Regions from separate parts of the Homo sapiens genome. Here region 1 is linked to region 2. Evidence: fine-mapped expression QTL. A gene starts in region 2. The other region holds a variant in brackets. All regions are shown on one strand. Distances are between the middles of the regions. Region 1 overlaps EPSTI1 (epithelial stromal interaction 1). Region 2 holds the start of DNAJC15 (DnaJ heat shock protein family (Hsp40) member C15).

Region 1 (10,123 bases), 38 kb before region 2:
GATGGAGACCATCCTGGCTAACACGGCGAAGCCCCGTCTCTACTAAAAATACAAAAAAAAAATTAGCCGGGCGTGGTGGCGGGTGCCTGTAGTCCCAGCTACTCAGGAGGCTGAGGCAGGAGAATGGCGTGAACCCGGAAGGCGGCGGAGCTTGCAGTGAGCCGATATCGCGCCGCTGGACTCCAGCCTGGGCGACAGAGGGAGACTCCGTCTCAAAAAAAAAAAAAAAAAAGAAAAGAAAAGAAATTTTAAGCCTAACAAGCAAAGTTATATATTATTAAAATGAATATCCATATACTGTTTACTTATATTTACCAACTGTTAATGTTTTCCCACATTTGCTTTTTCTCTTTTAACCATATGAAAATAAGCTGCAGGGTCATAACACATCATCCCTAAATATTTTAGCATGTATCTCCTAAAAATAAAAACAGTCTCCTACTTAAATATAATACCATTATCACACCAAGAAATTTAACATTAATATTGCCTAATAGTCTATATTCAAATTTCCAAATTGTTTCCATTTTAATATTCTTCCCTACCTTTACCTCATCCTAGATCCAATTATGGATTACACATTTCTATGGTTTGACATGTGTTTGTAGACTCCTATGAGCTCAGACAATTTCCTTGACTTTTTTTTTCTTTCTTTCATGACTGACATATTTGAAGAGTTCAGGTAACTTTTCTTATAGAATGCTTCACAATCTGGATGTAAGGAAAAGATTATTTCCTCATGATTCGATTAGGTTAAACATTTTTAGAAAGAATACTAGATAAGACATGTTATCCAAGATGCCACTGTGAGAACAAAGGTTGTTTCCTTGTGCAACTAAATAATAAGCCAAAGTGAAAAACAAGATCCGTCTATATGATGGAGTGCAATCACAGTTTAAAACAAAGATTAGAAAAAGAGTATCTGTCACATTCTATTGGCAATAGAAATCAAAGGGCATTGTATTAGTCCATTCTCATGCTGCTAATAAAGACATACTTGAGACTGGGTGATTTATAAAGAAAAAGAGGTTTAATGGACTCACAGTTCCACATGGCTGGGGAGGCCTCACAATCATGGTGGAAGGCAAAGGAGGAGCAAAGGCACATCTTACATGGTGGCAGGCAAGAGAGCACGTGCAGAGGAACTGCCCTTTATAAAACCATCAGGTCTCATAAAACTTACTCACTTTCGAGAACAGCACAGGAAAAAACAGCCCCCATAATTCAATTACCTCCCATGGGTCCCTCCCACAATACATGGTGATTATGGGAGCTACAATTCAAGATGAGATTTGGGTGGGGACACAGCCAAACCATATTAGGCATCATGGCCCTAGGTTTTCTACTTGGAATAAAGAGTCAAAGAGTGCAATCTGTACTTTAGAGATTTCTTTACACTAAACTCTTTGAAGTGTTTATTTCTAAGGGTCAGAATTGCAGGGGACTTTCACATTCTGTATTATTTTTGAAATGTTTGAGTTTTTATAACAAGCAGATATGACTTTACTTTTATAATCAGAGAAACATATTCTGAAGATTTTTAATAGAGAAATATTTAATATAAAGATTTCTTATAGCAGGGGCTCAGCTTTTCTTACAAGATTAGGTAGCATAGGTTTCTGCTTTCACTAGTACCATAGTAAAACAAACAATGGGCAATACTAGCCCTTGAGTTTTAATGATGGTAAACATCTTCAGTTTTTCTACAGGACTTTAATGGATTTTCTTTTAAGTCTTCATATTTGCAGGGGGTGGGGGACAGGGAATTACAAACATTACAGAACAAAGGAACCATCATCAGCCGATTCTCTGATATAGAATAGACCCTTCAAATGCAGTCATCTCCCTTTGATTATTTTCTTTCCTCTTAAGCTTTTGTTTCAGATTCAAATACATTCTGAATAGATGCAATTAACCTTAATATGTATAACCTTACAGCACTCTACTGACTTTGAAGTAAGTAACCTTACTGTGTAATTGAACTAAGTTTCTTTCTCATTTCTGCTATGGTTCTACTGATTATTGTTAGTAATATGTTTTCAAGCTTTCATCATCCTGTTGATTTATTGTTTCACCGTTCCAGCTGCCAAAGACTTTTTAGCAATTCCCATTCATTTTTGGTGATATTGTATTTGAACAAAAATGATTGCTCCCCAAGGCTTGGCAGACCACAAATGCGTACCATACTGAGGAATGGAATCCAGTGCAGAAAAGTTGGAAATTCCTTCTAAACAGGACCATAATTTCTACCGTCCTGCACAAACAGGAATGTAAATTTGATCTAATCAAACCAAAATGTTTTTTTCTTTTCATCCACTCTGTCTCTTCTGCCATGCATAGAACTGTGCTTTTCAAACTGTAGGAGGTAACCCTCTAATGGGTTATGAAATCAATTCAGTGGATTTATTTTTAATGAACAAGAATAGAAACTGTCAGAGTACATCACATATAATAAAGGTGAAAATTGTTTTGTGAAATTTTTTCAGTTATATATACCCTAATATATACTCAGTCAGGTACTAGGTCATGATGTCAAATGAATTGCTCACTGCAGGCTATGATCAGAAGTCTGAAAAAAAAATCACTGTAAGTTACTATGTTGTTGAGGTTGCACAGTGAGAGTGAGATAACTGCTCTAATGTCAGAGGTGTTTGAACCAGAGAGATTCCACCTTGAATAGGGGCTGGGTAAAATAAAGCTAAAACCTGCTGGGCTGCATTCCCAGACAGTTAAGGCATTCTAAGTCACAGGATGAGATAGGAGGTTGGCACAAGATACAGGTCCTAAAGACCTTGCTGATAAGACAGTTTTCAGTAAAGAAGCCAGCTAAAACCCACCAAAACCAAGATGGCAACGAGAGTGACCTCTGGTTTTCCTCAAAGCTACACTCCCACCAGCACCATGACAGTTTACAAATGCCATGGCAACATCAGGAAGTTACCCTAGATGGTCTAAAGAGGGGAAGCATGAATAACCCACCCCTTGTTTAGCATAAAATTAAGAAATAACCATAAAAATGGGCAACCAGCAAGCCTTGGGGCTGCTCTGCCTATGGAGTAGTCACTCTTTATTCCTTTACTTTCTTAATAAACTTGCTCTCACTTTGCTCTATAGACTTGCCCTGAATTATTTCTTGTGTAACATCCAAGAACCTTCTCTTGGGGTCCGGATCAGGACCCCTTGCCAGTAACACTAACACAAGGCTACCAAGCTCACCTGTCATTTGTGAAAAGCAGCAGAACAAAGGGAATCCCCAGAGAAACTTTTCTCCTGCAAAGTACTTCTCTATTCAAATCATTTTAAAGCTATGATGGGGTTCACGACATGTTATCCCAAAATATAGCACCTTGGTATTTGAGAAAACAGCAAAAGGAGGAAAGCCTCTCTGACCTTCTCCCATCTTTTTCCCCTGAAGCAAGCCATAAAAAATTTCTCTGACCTTCCTCTAAGGTAGGTCATAATATCCTCATTTCAGAGGGATCCTCCCTCCTCCCTAAACCCATAGGAAAGAAGTGGAGACATAGAGACACAAAGAATTTGAACAAACAGGACTTGCTAAGCTTCCCCAGTTTATGTCATTAGACCATACTCCTTTTTGACCAATCATACTTCTATATACTATCCACTCTTCATCAAACCTAAGCATAAAAAGACACAGTTTTCCCTGGTTCTTTGAATCTTCATTTTTGGATGCTCCTATGTCCTATAAAACTTATGTTAAATGAATGGGTATGCTTTTCTCTTGTTAATCTGTCTTTTTTTATAGGGATATCAGCCATGAACCTAGGGATAGGTAAGGAAAGAAATCTTCCCCTCTCTGCAACTGTAAATGTCACATTACTGCTTCGATATTACCACTCTCTTTAGCCTATAGAACTTCTCTTTTCTTAATGTCAATATAAAACAATGATAGGGCTGGGCGCAGTGGCTCATGCCTGTAATCTCAGCACTTTGGGAGGCCAAGGCAGGTGGATCACGAGGTCAGCAGTTCAAGACCAGCCTGGCCAACATGGTGAAACCACGTCTCTACTAAAAATACAAAAATTAGCCAGGCATGGTGGTGGACACCTGTAATCCCAGCTACTCGAGAGGCTGAGGCAGGGGAATCGCTTGAAGCCAGGAGGCGGAGTTTGCAGTGAGCTGAGACCACGCCATTGTACTCCAGCCTGGGCAACAGAGCGAGACTCCATCTCAAAAAAAAAAAAAAAAAAAAAAAAAACAATGATAAGACCTTAGCTAGCTGTACTATCAATCCTTCTATCTATTCTCCATCTGTACATCATATTCAAGATCCAAAATTTGGTAGATAGACATAGGTTTGAATACTGGTTCTGTCACTCAAAAAGCCATGAGATCTTGGAAAATCATTTTATTTTCAAGACTCAGTTTCCTCATCTTTAAGGTAGCAAATGGCTTATCATGAAAAGAATATTCAATAATGTACCTGACATACTTAACACAAGGTCTAGCACATGGCTAATCATGGAAAACACATGAGCTACTAATTGTTATTTTGGTTTTAGTCTCTCAGGGGTACCCAGTTTAATTTTTCCAGATCATAACTAATTTACTTTATGCTACAACAGGATTCCAATGCTTCATTACATTTCTCATTTCAAAAATAAGTCAAATAGTAGTAGTATTAGTATCTGATAATCATTGAGACATCTACCCAGCTCATTGAGACATGTCATTAGGAAGAGTTAAATACTATCTGTTGCTTTATAAACTTTCTGCATGCTAGAGATTGACTTAAATAATCCCCTAATGAATAACCATCTATATTGAGCCATCAAGATTACTCATTACAATCAATCACAGATACTATCTTCCAATGTACTATTATTTCATAACATTAAAAGGAACTCCAGCATTACCCAATTCTCCATCTCCAGGGAAGAATACTAGACTGATGCATTCAGGCCACTTAGCATCTATAAGCAGAATTTTATTCTCATAATCATATAGAGAAGGAAATTGAACATCTGAACATTGCAGTGAGGAAGAAATAGTGAAAACAGTTCTAATATGCTCTAATAAGTTTGTTAAAACTTGTACTTCATTTCAGAATATTTTATGTGGCTTATTCAGATGCAAATAATGTGAGTCAAAATGACTTAAGTTCTGTCTCAGACATAAGAAACCATACTTCAGGATTGCAGAAAATAGACACTAAATAGTGATATTGATAAAAATTTAACACTATAACTTAGTGACTTTATTATTGTATATCCCACCTTGTATTCCATCTTATAATTACAAAATACTTTACAAAATTTAACAATGCTTTTTAAGGAGAAAAGAGAAAAATCAGGATTGGCCATGATGAACTGCTCTTATCAAACCATCATTTATTCTCCTTTTATCTCCCTTGAGAGTTTGGGGATGAAGAGAAGGATTACAAAGATTATTTCCTTCCCTCAAGCATAACAAACTGGTGGGACGCATTAAGGTTGGATCAAGGAAATTAGGAAATGTTTTTCTGGGCCCTGAAGGAGGAAATGAGAAAAAGAATGGGTTTCCCCAATCTGCATAGACAGCATGCCAACAACAGACATAAATAAGATGTCTAAGTGTTGAGGTTGCAGTAGGGTGTTTTAGAGACTGTATTAGTTTGAGTCCTTCAGAAGCTGACACCAAGATGGGGTTAGACAAGCAAGAGATGGATAAGGGGGAATGCTTGTGAAGGATGAAAGTGGGAGCAGGGGTAGGGAAGGAAAGCTTTGAGAACAAGACTAGGTCTGATTACTATTGCCAAAACCTAAATAAAAGACAGTGAGAGAGGCCCTCCCAAAGAAAATCATATTTATTCTGGATTGAGCATTGCAATGGGAATACAGTGGGTATATTCAAGAAGGCAAAGGAAGACAAAGGTTTTTTAAGGAAAAGTGAGGAAAGGAGGGTGATACAAGTTGTTTGAGACAAATATCCTTGGCTACAAAAATCAACAAGGGTAGAATCAGTCCAAGGCTGGACAGACAGTTGCTAGGCAGATGTCCTTGCAGAAGTACTTTTTGTGTAAGGTTGTAGCTTTTGTGCAAAGTTGTAGTTTTTGCAGAGCCTTTTGTGAGAGTTCTTGTTATGAGGCATATGTGCATGAGAATCTTCCCTTCATGGCCCCAGCTCCACGTGTTTGACACAAGTGACCTCATTTTGAGTCTGACAACTTTCATTCTATGAAAGGACCGAAGGAAAGAGGATTGAGTAGCAAGATCCTCAGTGTTATACAGTTCTGAGAAAATCTTGGACACGAATATGGGG[A/G]GTCTTCCAGCAAAAGTTGCCTAATAGAGGAGTTCTGCATGGGCCAGGAATAGGCTAGCACTAAAACCATCCCAAGAAAATTGTATAAAATTGAGCAAGAGAAAAACAAAACAATAAAATCCAACCGGGCTTGCAGCAGCAATCATTAAGCCAGCTTGCCCTTTGGTCCACTTCCTTGTAGCTGGTTGTTGCTCACTAGCCCAGCTTTGAGCTGTCCAATGGACAACCCCAGATTTTCTAGCCCCTCACCCTCCATGAATCCCCTTAAAAACCCTTGCCCAGAACCCATGGAAGAAACAAACTTGAGGCTTGAGAATTCCTCCTGTTTCCTCACTGAGAATGTCGCGATGATTAAACTCTTTCTCTGCTGCAAGTGCCATTGTCAGTGTATGGGTCTGTTGCTGCCCAGAGGGCGTATAAGCCTGGCAGTCCTGCAACAGCACTGGCACCCTGGAATGCTCAGCCATTGGCTGGGATGGGTGCAGCACAAGCCAGCACTCACAGGCAAGGTGTAATGGATCCAAAAGGGTGGCAGCTGGGGCCGTCAGCTGACTATGCTCCCCACTGTAAGTTCTTCTGAAGACAATCTGAATAACAAGTTTCTCTGGCTGTCCAGAGGCCATTTAAACTCCTGTGACATAATAAAAAATAAATATTTAGCCACGGTCCCTGGTTCCTGGGACAGAGCTCCCCAAACCCTTGGGATTCCCAGAGTGCTAAGTGTCTTTTTTATGCTAATGTCTGTTGGTGAGGTCCCTAGACAGCTAGCTTAAGAGACTGGTAGCTAGAAAAACCAGCTATGCGATTGGGGGGTTAAAACTTTCAACCCCTGGCCGGGAGCAGTGGCTCACGCCTGTAATCCCAGTACTTTGAGAGGTCGAGGTGGGTGGATCACAAGGTCAGGAGTTCGAGACCAGCCTGGCCAATATGGTGAAACCTCGTTTCTACTAAAAATACAAAAAAATTAGCCAGGCATGGTGGCACATGCCTGTAATCCCAGCTACTTGGGAGGCTGAGGCAGGAGAATTGCTTGAATCTGGGAGGCAGAGGTGGCAGTGAACTGAGATCACGCCACTGCACTACAGCCTGGGTGACACAGCAAGATTCCATCTCAAAAAAAAAAAAAAAAAAAAAAAAAAACAACTTGCAGCCCCATCTCAGTTTCTGGGGAGAGGCGGGGGCTGGAGATTTAATCACCAATGGCCACTGATTTAATCAATTATGCCTAGGTAATAAAGCCTCAATAAAAGTTCTTGAACTATAAGGTTTGGGGGTCTTCCAGGTTGGCGAACACATCAAAGTATCTACCTAGAGTATGGAAACTCTTCACACCCCACCACCTACCCCTTCATCTCCCAAAAGATGCCTTACGCATCTCTTCCACTTGACTGAGTTGTATCCTTTATGATAAACCTGTAATCATAAATATAGTAATTTCTGCGAGTTTTGTGAGTCACTCTAATGAATTATCAAAACTGGGGAAGGGGAGATGCATGGGAACCCCCAACTTTGTAGTCTGGTGGGTAGACATACAGGTAGCCTGGAGACTCCATTTGCAGCTAGTGTCTGAAGTCTGAAGTGGGGGGCAGTTTTGTGGGACTGAGCCCTTAATTTGTGGGGTCCACACTAACTCTGAGTAGTTAGTGTTAGAATTGAACTGTGGGACACCTAGTTGGGGTCACAGTTAGTTGGTGTTAGAATGACATATTTGATGTCAGGAAAAAAAAAACCACACAACTCCTAATGATCCTGTAGACCAAAGCTCAAACGTCACCTCTAAGGAAAGATCTTCCTGCTCCCAAGACCAGCTGAGACCCCAGCTTTCCTTGCAAGCTTGTCCAGCCCAGGGCCCACAAGGTGCATGTAGCCCAGGTGGCTCAGGATGGCTTTGAATGTGGCCCAACACAAATTCATAAACTTTCTTAAAACATTGAGGTTTTTTTGCGATTTTTTTTTTAAGCTCATCCACTATGATTAGTGTTAGTGTATTTTGTGTGGGGCCAAGACGATTCTTCTTCCCATGTGGCCCCAGGAAGCCAAAAGATTGGATACCCCTGCTTTAAAGTATACATATTTGTTCACATATTAATAAATGTCTGTCCCATCAATTAGACAGTAAGCTTCATAAGGGCTTATTTTGTGTTGAATAGTTATTTGTTCCTAGTTTTTAATTAGTTCTTTTAAGCTAGAGATCCTCTCATTCCATGGTGGTTATGAGGATTGAAAGAGTTAGTATACATAGTGTGCATTTACATACTAGCTACTACGTAAGTGCTATTATTATTATTGCTCATGTTGAAGTCTCTACAATACTAATACGAAGTAGGCCACAAAAATGTTAAGATTAACATAATTTACATACAAATTCAGCTCAAGTTAACTGTAAAATAAAATTCCATATTATAGGTTCATTTTCAAAATATATTTTTATTTTCTTCAAACAGCATCAAGCTAAAGGACCAGGTATGGTTAGACAAGTACATGAATGTGAATTCAACCCTATATTACCAGCACAGGCAAGACCCCATTTCCCAGAATTGGATAAAACTAGGTAAATGCATGTCTTTGTCTTATATTTATCTAGAGGTGATATAAATAATGTAAAATATTTACAAACAAGCAGAATATTAAAAGGAAGGATAAAGGTTTACTTTGGATTAGAAGTTTGTGTAAGCTTTTTTCTCTTTTAATTTGTGTAGACAGCTTTGATATTTAAGGACAAGACAAAAATCACCAAGTAAAAATAATTGGGAAAGCCAGTATGAATTAGTAAATACTTATAATAACTTAAATCCAAATTCCATCAAGAACTCAATCTTGGCCAGGCGCGGTGGCTCACGCCTGTAATCCCAGCACTTTGGGAGGCCGAGGCAGGCAGATCACAAGGTCAGGAGTTTGAGACCGGCCTGGCCAATGTGGCGAAACCCCGTCTCTACTAAAAATACGAAAATTAGCCAGGCATGGTGGCATGTGCCTGTGGTACCAGCTGCTCAGGAGGCTGAGGCAGAGGAGTCGCTTGAACACGGGAGGCAGAGGTTGTGGTGAGCTGAGATTGCGCTGTTGCACTCCAGCCTGAGCGACAGAGCGAGACTCTGTCTCAAAAAAAAAAAAAAAGAACTCAATCTTGTCTGAGAGTCTATCAGAGGTACTCAGAATAATTTAATATATTGATAGCCACAGATTTTTACTAGTATACTTTCTTTCTATGCAAATAGGTGGTTTATTTATTTATTTATTTATTTATTTGAGACAGGGTCTCACTCTGTTGCCCAGGCTGGAGTACAGTGGTACAATCACAGCTCACTGTAGTCTTGGAGCTCCTGAGCTCAAGCTATCCTCCTGCCTCAGCCTCTTGAGTAGCTGGGACAGAGGTATGTGCCACCGTGCCCAGATAATTTAAATTTTTTTTTTTTTTTTTTTTTTTTTGGAGAGACAAGGGACTCCCTATGTTACTCCTGGACTAAAGCAATCCTCCCACATTGGCTTTCCAAAGTGCTGAGGTTACAGGCACAAGCCCCTGCGCCCGACCACAAGTAGGTGTTTTAAACCAGTGTTTTTTTTTAACAAGGCACAAACATTCGACTTAAGGGTGACAGCATAGTACTTTACCAGGAATAAAGTTATGTTTTACACATATACACGTGGAAAAATTAAAACCCTATGAAGTTGGTATTGTCTTATATTAAGTAATGAGGAAACTGAGGCATAAAGTAGCTAAGGATTTTGTTCAAAGAGCAAGTGATGGCATAATCAGAACTTGAACCCAGGTCTACCCAGCATCAGAGCCCATATTCCTAATCCCCACACTGGGGCTGCAGGAGGAAATTAATGGAAGGATTCCCACAAAACAAGACAAATCTTT
Region 2 (10,785 bases):
CATGACTTTCAATGGTGTTTGCTTCATCCTAAGGCCATCTCTTCTCATGGTATAGGGACCATATATCCTGGTTTGCTAGACAGTCTCAGTTATATCTATTGTCCTAACATAATTATTTATAGCACTATCTTTCTTTCAAATGTGACCTCGTTTTGGATGATAAATTAAATGTTAACCCTAGTTTATGGTTGTCAAATGACTGCCAACTACAATTAGTGCTTCACACTTCTCTGTTCATGTCCAGCTAAAGAGAGAAGCTGCTGTCCCAGAAATAACCAACAAACCTTTTCTATAATCCCAATGTCCCAGAAGGGCAAAGTGTCCATCCATGAAACAGACATCATGGCTAGAGTGATGGGATGCATCAGTTGGCTTAGGTCAATCAGGGGCCACCCTGAGAATAGGGGACAAAGTCAATAGGTGGGTCCATGGTAGGTGGGGCCAAGAGGGATTAAATGTGGAGAAGAATCCAGTTAAAGCCACTATACTCCTCCTTGCCATATCTTCTGCCAGTGCCCTAGTTTAGGGCTCAGCCTCTCTTAGACTATTGCAATAACTTTTTAGCTGATCTCCCTCCTTTTGCTTTGGCCTATCACTACGTTGCTGCCACAATGATCTTCTTAGTATGTAAATCTGATCATGTCACTGCCAGATTCAACATTTTTTGATGTCCTGCTTTTACCTATGAGATAAAGTCTAAATGCCTCTGCTTATTATATAAAGCTGTTCAATACTTGGCCTTTGTCTAGTTATCTGTCCACCCTCATCCATCTTCAGTCGTTTCTTTATACTTTAAACTTCAGCAAAACTGAATGACTTTAGTATTGTTTACATACAAGGCTTTCTCACACATTGTTTCCCCAAGTCTGCCTCATATTTATCAGTTCAGCAAATTTGTTTTCATCCCCCCATTGTCATCTTGATGCTGGCTTCTCCGACTCCTTCCTTGAACATTTCAGGCCCGTTTTTGGTGCCCACTGCACTTTGTCATACAGTAAAGCCAGCCTCTTTTCTGACCAGACCAGGCTAGTGGTTGGTGGGTTAATTGAAAAACCAATTAAAATCTGAGATCACAACAATATACATATTTTAACCTTTTTTTTTTGAGATGGAGTTTCACTCTCATCACCCAGGCTGGTGTGCAATGGCGCGATCTCAGCCCCCTGCAACCTCTGCCTCCCAGGTTCAAGCAATTCTCCTGACTCAGCTTCCTGAGAGCCTGGGATTACAGGCACCTACCACCACGCCCGCAAATTTTTTTTTTTTTTTTTTTTTTTTTTTTTTTTTATGAGAGGGAGTCTTGCTCTGTCGCCCAGGCTGGAGTGCAGTGGTGCGATCTCGGCTCACTGCAACCTCCACCTCCCGGGTTCAAGCAATTCTCTACCTCAGCCTCCCGAGTATCTGGGATTATAGGCGCCCACCACCACATCCGGCTAATTTTTTGTATTTTTAGTAGAGACGGGGTTTCACCGTCTTGGCCAGGCTGGTCTTGAACTCCTGACCTCATGATCCACCTGTCTTGGCCTCCCAAAGTGCTGGAATTACAGGTGTGAGCCACCGTGCCCGGCCAGTAATTTTTGTATTTTTAGTAGAGATGGGGTTTCGTCATGTTGGCCAGGCTGGTCTCAAACCCCTGACCTCAGATGATCCGCCTTCCTCAGCCTCCCAAAGTGCTGAGATTACAGGCGTGAGCCACCGTGCCTGGACACTTTAACCATTTTTTTTTTTACAACATATATAAATTACTGTTTCTCAACCTTTTTTTTCTTCATTATCTCCACCCAAAAGTTTTTTTTTTGACTTTTCTTCTAATACACTCCCTCTACCCACATGAAATTTTAGTGTCACAACAGACACACTGTATGTGTACTCTATGTACATCCGCAGGGCTGCAGGGCCAAGGCCTTTTATTTGGATGTGGGTCCTCTGGTTCAGTTCTGCCTTGGATTTCTTCCACACTGGTAATCCATCCTCTATGATTCCTAATTTGAGTTTGTTTAAAATGAAGGTGGAGCAAGACATTTTAAAAGCAAACAGTACAGAATCATAGTCAGTGTTTGTGATTCTCTTCCCATGCTCACCATTCAACAGCTTTTTAAAAATAACCTGTTTTATCAAATATTTCCAAGGCATTTAATTTCATTTTCATGAAAACAACTATTTCCTCTCCCACAATTATATTTTATCACTATGCGATGTTAGTCAGATTTTGTAATTTCAAAGACAAGACAATTGGTTGGGGATCAACACAACTGCTGGGGGAAGGAGGCAGAGCTAGTGAGAGAAAATACACAAGGAAATAAATCGGTGAAAGAGGTAACATAAAGAAAATAGTAACTAACAATTTTGTAGAAGTTACTAAGTATCAAGCACTGTTCTAGGAGCTTTTCAAAAGTGAACTCATTTAATCCCTACAAGAGAGGTGCTATTATTATCACCTACTTTACTAATGAGGAAACTGAGGCACAGAGAGGTCAATTGTCTTTGTTAAAATTCCTTTCAAACAATAAATTTTTAGAACATTTTCCACTGAGATGTTTCGAAGACATACTACCAATGCAATCTGCCTTTCTTTTACAAAGTCTATTGAACATAATGTAATCTGTCTTTGAAGTGGCGTAACTAATAAAAGTAGGCCAATGAAAATTTAATGTGGCCTCCCTTTTGGGTTTCACAAAAATATTTTTCTTTGTTCTCAAGAAGCTAGAAAATTGAGTTTAACTAAATCAGGAAGAGATCCTTGTGGGGGAGAGGAAAGGACTTCATGGCCCTTTTTTCCATCCTTTCTTTGCTGAGGAGGGTGAATTTACCAAAGAACCAAAGGCTGGGAACTAAGTAATCTTTGTGGATGAGATTTTTCTTTAAAATTGGCTACATCTGCAAGAGCGGATGCCTGAGGCAGCAGTGGAATGAGGTCAGTCGAGTCTACAAGCAGCCAGCTATCTGATCTCAATAGTTTGGGGTCTGAGCTGACATGCAACCCTGCTGAGTCCACCTCACCTCCACCTTGCTATATTCTCCCCTTCCCACTTCTTCTATTCCCCCTTTTCCTGGCTTCTGCTCTGAAAGCTTCTCTCCAGTTCCTGAGCAGGGGCAGTAGCTGCCCTAACAGGAGCTGAAGCTAAGCTGGGTCTTGCTCTAATTGTTCATTTGTTTCAGGCCAGCAGCCTGTTACTGCTAGGGCTCAGCCACTAGAATACTCCAAACTCCAAGGAATCAGAGACCTTATTTGTATGTTTGACTGTATAGGTCCAATGCCTAGCATAGTTCTTCATATCTAACAGATACTCAATAAGTATTTACTGAATAAATAAATGAATGGAAGAATGACCTGTAGGCCTTGATCCAATTCATTTGCTTAGTTTACTAGTGTCCTTCATAGTCGTGGATCCGTTTAACAAAAATTAATTTCTGTAATGAGATTATTTCTGTGAAGAGTCCTGGAATATTTTTTACCCAGTCCTATAAATCAGTGTTTTTCATTTCCTTCCATTTGTTTCCAGTTGAAATTTCTGGCATTTCCTCTCTTCCATCTAAAGAAATGTTACCCATTCTTTACCTCATCTCAATGGCTAAGCCTTCACTAAACCTCTCTGATGACCCCTGTTAAAAGTGGCCATTCCCTCCTGTAAAGTCCAAGAGCACTATGGTTGTAATTCTTTTCATAAGTGCATTATACAAGTTGCTTCCATATCCTGTCGTTTTCTTTTTTATCCCTATGTAAATGAAAAGTTCTCTGAAAAGGAATTTAGAGGAGAGAGACTATCCCAATAAACAGTTTGCAAACCTGAGAGCCACAGATTTCAGTGTAAAAGGAAGGTTTGGCTCTATTTTAAGTTAGTCCTAGTTAGCCACTTGGGATCCATCTTGAAGGATTGGTTCTTTGAGGTTTATATTTGTTTGCACAACTTCCCTGAGTCAGAATGTTGGACAAATGTTATTCTCCTTTTACAGGTAATTTGGAGAGGTTAATGGATATGTTCAGTTATACAAGCCCAGAAAATAATGGAGGTACACTAGAACTCAGATGTCTTCCTTATTCCTGTAACCACCCAATGGGTTTACTTTGCTGGCTGTCTAGACAGAGCCAAATTTATAAAGACGGGGTAATTGCAATAGAGAAAGAGTAATTCATGCAGAGCTGACTGTGCAGGAGACTGGAGTTTCATTATTACTCAAATCAGTCTCCCAGAGCATTCAGGGATCAGAATTTTTTATTTATTTATTTATTATTATTATTTTTTTGAGACGGAGTCTCACTCTGTCCTCAGGCTGGAGTGCAGTGGCGCGATCTCTGCTCACTGCAACCTCTGCCTCCCAGGTTCAAGCGATTCTCCTGCCTCAGCCTCCCGAGTAGCTGGGACTACAGGCACCCACCACGCCCAGCTAATTTTTGTATTTTTAGTAGAGATGGGATTTCACCATGTTGGCCAGGATGGTCTCACTCTCTTGACCTCATGATGCACCCACCTTCGGCCTCCCAAAGTGCTGGGATTACAGGCATGAGCCACCGCGCCCAGCTGGGGATCAGAATTTTTAAGGACAACTCGGTGAGTAGGGGGAAGCCAGTGAGCTGGGAGTGCTGATTGGTCAGGTCAAAGATGAAATCACAGGGAGTCCAAGTTGTCTTGCGTTATCAGTTCCTGGGTGGGGGCCACGAGATCAGATGAGCCAGTTTATCGATCTGGGTGATGCCAGCTGATTCATCAAGTGCGGGGTCTGCAAAATATCTCAAGCACTGGTGGTAGTTTTTACAATAGTGATGTTAGCTCCAGCAGCAATTTGGGGAGGGTCAGAATCTTGTAGCCTCCAGCTGCATGACTCCTAAGTCATAATTTCTGATCTTGTGGCTAATTTGTTAGTCCTACAAAGGCAGTCTAGTCCCCAGGCAAGAAGGAGGTTTGTTTTGGGAAAGGGCTTTTATCATCTTTGTTTCAAACTATAAACTATGAATTACATTCCTCCCAAAGTTAGTTTGGCCTACGGCCAGGAATGTACAAGACAGCTTGGAGGTTAGAAGCAAGATGGTGTTGATTAGGTCAGATCTCTTTCTCAGTTGTAATTTTGCAATGGCGGTTTAATTCCCAGTCCAGTTCTCTTTATACTGCTATGCAATGCATGTGCTCATGTTCTGGTATGTACTATTATTCTGTGTCAGTGTTATCTTCCCTACAAGATTGTAAATTTCTAGGACCTAACTTCTTAGACATGCTAATAATATTAACTAAGTGAACAAATTAATAGACCCTCAAAACTTTAAATTCAGGAATAGAAAAAAAATAAAGCTTTTTCTTCCTGTCAGCTGATTTTGCAAAGGGTATAAGGAGCCAAAGAGCTGCCACGTTGGTACAGAAGTTGGAAAACACCATACGCTTCAACTGCTGGTTAATTTTTGCTCTAAAAACTTGATGGAGGCCAGGCGCGGTGACTCACGCCTGTAATCTCAGCACTTTGGGAGGCTGAAGCGGGCGGATCACCTGAGGTCAGGAGTTTGAGACCAGCCTGGCCAACATGGTGAAACCTCGTCTCTACTAAAAATACACAAATTAGCCAGGTGTGGTGGCACGTGCCTTTAATCCCAGGTACTCGGGAGGCAGAGGGTGCAGTGAGCCAGAGATTGCGCCACTGCACTCAGCCTGGGCAACAGAGCGAGACTCCATCTCAAAAAAAAAAAAAAGCTTAATAATAAAATGGGCTTTTATATATACAAATCAGCACAAACTCATTTGAGGGAGAGTAAGATTTACCTACTTGCTCACAACTTTTTTTCCCCTGCCTCAGGCTCCTGAGTAGCTGGGATTACAGGGACGCACCACCACACCCAGCTAATCTTTGTATTTTTAGTAGAGACGAGGTTTCACCATGTCGGCCAAGCTGGTGTGATCCACCCGCCTCGGTCTCCCAAAGTGCTGGGATTACAGCGTGAGCCACCGCACCCGGCCACAACTTTCTTCTGTGTAATTTCACCTTAAATACAGCCATTTACTTGGGGGTGGAGTAAGCAAATTGCCTCTTTAATTTCTCTCCCGGGGTGGTAGAACTGTGGCATTAAACAGAAGTGCGAACAGAAGTTGAGAGTGGGAAGAAAGGCTGCCCGGAAGGGGGTCAGGAAAGCTCAGGCAAGCCCACCCTCAGGCACTACAGCTAGACTCCGAGCTTACTGGGCAGTCATCTGATTCGACCAACATCAGTTCGCAGGGCTTAAGCCCAGTCCCTTACGGCGGCCTGGGGAGGGACCAGGCCCAAGTATATAAAGCTCCCTGAGGGTCCGCGTTGGCTTTGCGCCTGTGAGTGTGATTCAAGAACGTCCCAGTGCCCTTGGCTCCTTTCGGAGTGTGACCCCGTGCTTGCACGGGACACGTTACCCAGCTCGGGTGAGAAGGGTATCTTCCGGGAACCTCGCCTTTAATAGCACAACGAGCGCAGAGTCCACTGGATCTGCGAGAAGAAACCGCGCTAACTAGTTTGTCCCTACGGCCGCCTCGTAGTCACTGCCGCGGCGCCTTGAGTCTCCGGGCCGCCTTGCCATGGCTGCCCGTGGTGTCATCGCTCCAGTTGGCGAGAGTTTGCGCTACGCTGAGTACTTGCAGCCCTCGGCCAAACGGCCAGACGCCGACGTCGACCAGCAGAGACTGGTGAGTCCTGCCAGCGGCCCCCACCCCTCTCTGGCTCCCTTGTAGTTTCTGCTTCAGCCCCCTCTACCGCCTCACCCTTGAACCTTTGTACTCCCCCGCATTCGCTCACGGTCTGTGCCCTAGCGCTCACTTGTTCAGTGGAGAGACCGCTTTGTGCTGGGCTTTGACGCCTGGGCGTGGAAGACGGAGCAGTTCTGAGGATCTGTCTCCTCAAGGAGCTTCCAGTCTTGTCTGGGACACAAACCAGAAAACAGGCAATTGCAAATACAGTAAAATAAGTGCTGTATGTGGATTTTCCTATCTCATAGGAGGCCCTAAAAACGTCTTGCAGGGGACGTGGTGGGATCAGGGACGCTTCTTGGAGAAAGCTGTAGTTAAAAATTAAGATCTGAATGAATAAAAACAGTCCATTCAGCAAGGAGAAGGGGAAAAAGTGTTTCGGGTACCAGGACTACTGTCTCCAAAGTCTCCGGCACAGAAACAGGGCCCAGTTGGAAACTCCAAGTGGTGTATTCAGGATGAACTGTAGAGCTGGAAAAAGGAAGGGTCTAACAGAAAACTGTCCAACAGAAGCATATTGTGAGCCACATACGTATTTTTACGTTTTTTTTTTTTTTTTTTTTTTTTGAGACGGAGTCTCGCTCTGTCGCCCAGGCTGGAGTGCAGTGGCGCGATCTCGGCTCACTGCAAGCTCCGCCTCCCGGTTTCAGGCCATTCTCCTGCCTCAGCCTCCCAAGTAGCTGGGACTACAGGCGCCTGCCACCACTCCCGGCTAATTTTTTGTATTTTTAGTAGAGACGGGGGTTTCACCGTGTTAGCCAGGATGGTCTCGATCTGCTTACCTCGTGATCCGCCCGCCTCGGCCTCCCAAAGTGCTGGGATTACAGGCGTGAGCCACCGCGTCCGGCATATTTTTAAGTTTTTTGTAGCCATATTAAACAACTGAAGAGAAACAGGTGGGTTTGATTTTAACCATGTATTTTCTTTAACCTGATATATGCACAGTTGCATGGTAATTTTCAACATTCAATATGAAATATTGCCCAAGTGGTGGTTTAGGCTTGTAATCCCAGCGCTTTAGGAAGCCCAGGCAGGAGGATCACTTGAGGCCATGAGTTTGGAGGACAGCCTGGGCAACACAGGAGACCCCATCTCTGCTAAAAAAAAAAAAAAAAAATTAGCTGGGTGTGGTGGTGTGAGCCTGTAGTCCTAGCTGCTTGGGAGGCTGGGTCGGGAGAATCACTTGAGCCCAGGAGTTGAGGTTATAGTGAGCTATGATTTCGCCACTGCACTCCAGCCTGAGAGACAGAGCTAGACCCTGTCTCCAACAAAGAAAAAAAAATGAGGCAGTAGAGATTTAGAAAGTTTTAAGTAACTGGTCCAGGATCATCCCTGGTAAGTGGCAGATCTACGATTCCAAATGCTACACTTTTTCCCTTATGACTTGCTGACTCCTTAGAAATAAGGATTTCTGGATATAGTATTCAGTGTATGATACAGCTGAACAAGATCAGGCAGAAGTAATCCTTTTGTGGAGAGTCGTAAAAATCCGAGTATCAGGCTTTCAAGGTAGTTGGGAGCTGTGGTAATTGGAAGATAGAACTAATATTGGTGACTTTTACATGTGTAGGTATTTTTACTTGGAAGAGGAGAGAGTTTACAGAATCCAGAGTACCACATAGGAAGCATCTTTAGTAGTCCAGGTACTTGAAGGCTAAAGTGTAGGCCAGTGATTCTCAAACTGTCTGTGTCCTGTAATATCCTGAAATCCTGAAGTCAGATTCATAGACAATAAAATCTACCTGTAAACATAACTTTTAATAATCAATATAATGCTTTAATTGAGACATAAAGGTGAAATATTTTATTAGACAATAACATGTCTACAGGCTGCGAGCGGTGTCTCGCTCCTATAATCCCAGCAATTTGGGAGGCTGAGGTGGGTGGATCACTTGAGTCAGGGGTTCGAGACCAGCCTGGCCAACAGGGCAAAACCGTGTCTCTACTAAAAATACAAAAATTAGCTGGGCATGGTAGCACAAGTCTGTAATTCCAGCTAGTAGGGAGGCTGAGGCAGAAGAATTGCTTGAACCCAGGGGGCAGAGGTTGCAGTGAGCGGAGATCATGCCACTGCACTCCAGCCTGGGCGACAGAGCGAGACTTTGTCTCAAAAAAAAGAAAATAACATGTTAACATGTCTACAATTTAAATATGTAAATACTTAGACATTACTACATTAGAAAACATAATGAAGTAATTATTAGTTGCTGTCATATTACACCAATTTGTAGAATCACTGTGTATGTGACAGCTACCAATGCAAATTGTTTATCAAATGTATTATATTGGCTTTTCAAGTAGCAGAAGGACCATTGTTCTTTACAAACTTATTTCTCCTAAATGGTGAACAATTTCTGGTAAAAACTTGAACAAAACAGTGGAATCTCCCTCAATTTACATGGCACTTGCACTTATGGAAGATTCAGTCTGTACTAAAACAGTGTAATAATGATATATTTATATATAATGAAGTTCTGGACTAAGATTATCATAAACTTTTCACCTACTTAATCTTTTAAAATTGAGGGATGCAAACAGTTTTTTGTTACACAGGCTTGTCTCATATATTTTAGGACTTCTACGATCAATGGTCCCCCATCCACCAAATACCCTCCCTTCTATTCAAATTATTGTGCAACCAAACAGGGCCTCACGTACTTTCAGAATGTCCCTAAGGGGTTGTTCTGCTTCTTTTGGGAGTTGTTGGTCCAGGCAATGACCAATAATGAGGCAGAAGATTGTTGATAATAACTTTAGGGAACTTGGAAGTACTGAAAGCAATGAGAAGCTGACAAAAGGTAAATATTAGGAAAGAAAAAAAAATGGCCTAGGTGTAGGGCATATTTGGAAATCTTATGGAAAATAGAAAATAATGTTTGTCAATGAGTTAAAGAAAAACTTTCACACTGTATTTTAAAAATGTAATTCATTTTAAGGTTTATGAAATATATCTTGTTGGGCTGGACATGGTGGCTCATGCCTGTAATTCTAGCAATTTGGAAGGTCAGGTGGGAGAATTACTTGAGCCCAGGGGTTCAAGACCCAGGGTGGGCAACATAGTGAGACCCCTGTCTTTCTAAAAGAAAAATCAAAAAGAAATAAATATATCTTGTCATATTTGTTAAATAACTTTTTCTTAGGTAAGCTTCTCTTTTGAAACTAAGAACTAATGTTCATTAGCCTGCTTAGGAGATTAAAATAATTTTTAAAAATAGGCAAAATATGTAGCATCTTGAATAAAGTTAGCATTTTACAATTAATGGTTTAATAGAAGTCATAATCAAACTTTGCACTAGCAAAGCTGTTTCTCATGGAAAAGTAGAAAAGAAACTTTAAGAGATTATTATCAAATTTTAAAGCAGTTTGAACAAAACTCAGTTTGTATGAAACGGTAGTCATTTAGTTTCCATTACTTTCCTGAAAACTGTAACTCTTACTTTTATTTTTCTTCAATTTTTATTTTAAGTTCCGGGGTACATGTGCTAGATGTGCAGGTTTGTTACACAGGTAAATGTGTGCCGTGGTGGTTTGCTGCACAGATTGTCTCATCACCTAGGTATTAAGCCCAGCATGCATTAGCTATTCTTCCTGATGCTCTCCCTCCTCCCACCCCCACAACTCTTGTTATTATTAGGATAGTGTAACATGTAAAAAAAACTAGACACATATATGTTTCATTATAAACAATCCTGATACGTGAAAACTAAAACCTGTCAAACTAATTTTCAGGCATTTATTCATTTCCAAAAATAAGACAGTACTTTTACTATTTTGCAATGATAACATGATTTAAAACATGTTTTAACAATACTTTGAAGCTTACATTGGTAATCACATGGATTATGTACTGTATACCCATATTTTTAACTTTTTTTTTTTTGAGATGGAGTCTTGCTCTGTTGCCCAGGCTGGAATGCAATGGCGGGATCTCGGCTCACTGCAGCCTCTGCCTCACAGGTTCACCTGAGTCTCCTGCCTCAGCCTCCCAAGTAGCTGGGACCACAGGCGCCTGCCACCACGCCCAGCTAATTTTTGTATTTTCAGTAGAGATAGGGTTTCCCCATGTCAGCCAGGCTGGTCTCAAACTCCT

What was found. PIP is the estimated chance that this variant, and not a neighbour inherited with it, causes the effect.
Region 1: its variant is fine-mapped to the expression of DNAJC15 in subcutaneous fat (GTEx, PIP above 0.99).

What each region holds. Positions count from the first base shown.
Region 1 is chr13:42,979,371-42,989,493 of GRCh38, forward strand. The region is part of intron 1 of EPSTI1 (epithelial stromal interaction 1); the gene reads right to left. Among named protein-coding and RNA genes, the nearest start is that of EPSTI1, 7.8 kb to the right of the region's middle. RefSeq lists an enhancer at 6,235-6,736. The variant A/G (reference allele first, on the strand shown) is at 6,262.
Region 2 is chr13:43,017,100-43,027,884 of GRCh38, forward strand. DNAJC15 (DnaJ heat shock protein family (Hsp40) member C15) reads left to right here and starts at 6,487. Exons shown (of 6, transcript NM_013238.3): 1 at 6,487-6,635. The coding sequence starts at 6,528. RefSeq lists enhancers at 6,306-6,365, 6,376-6,425, 6,936-6,985.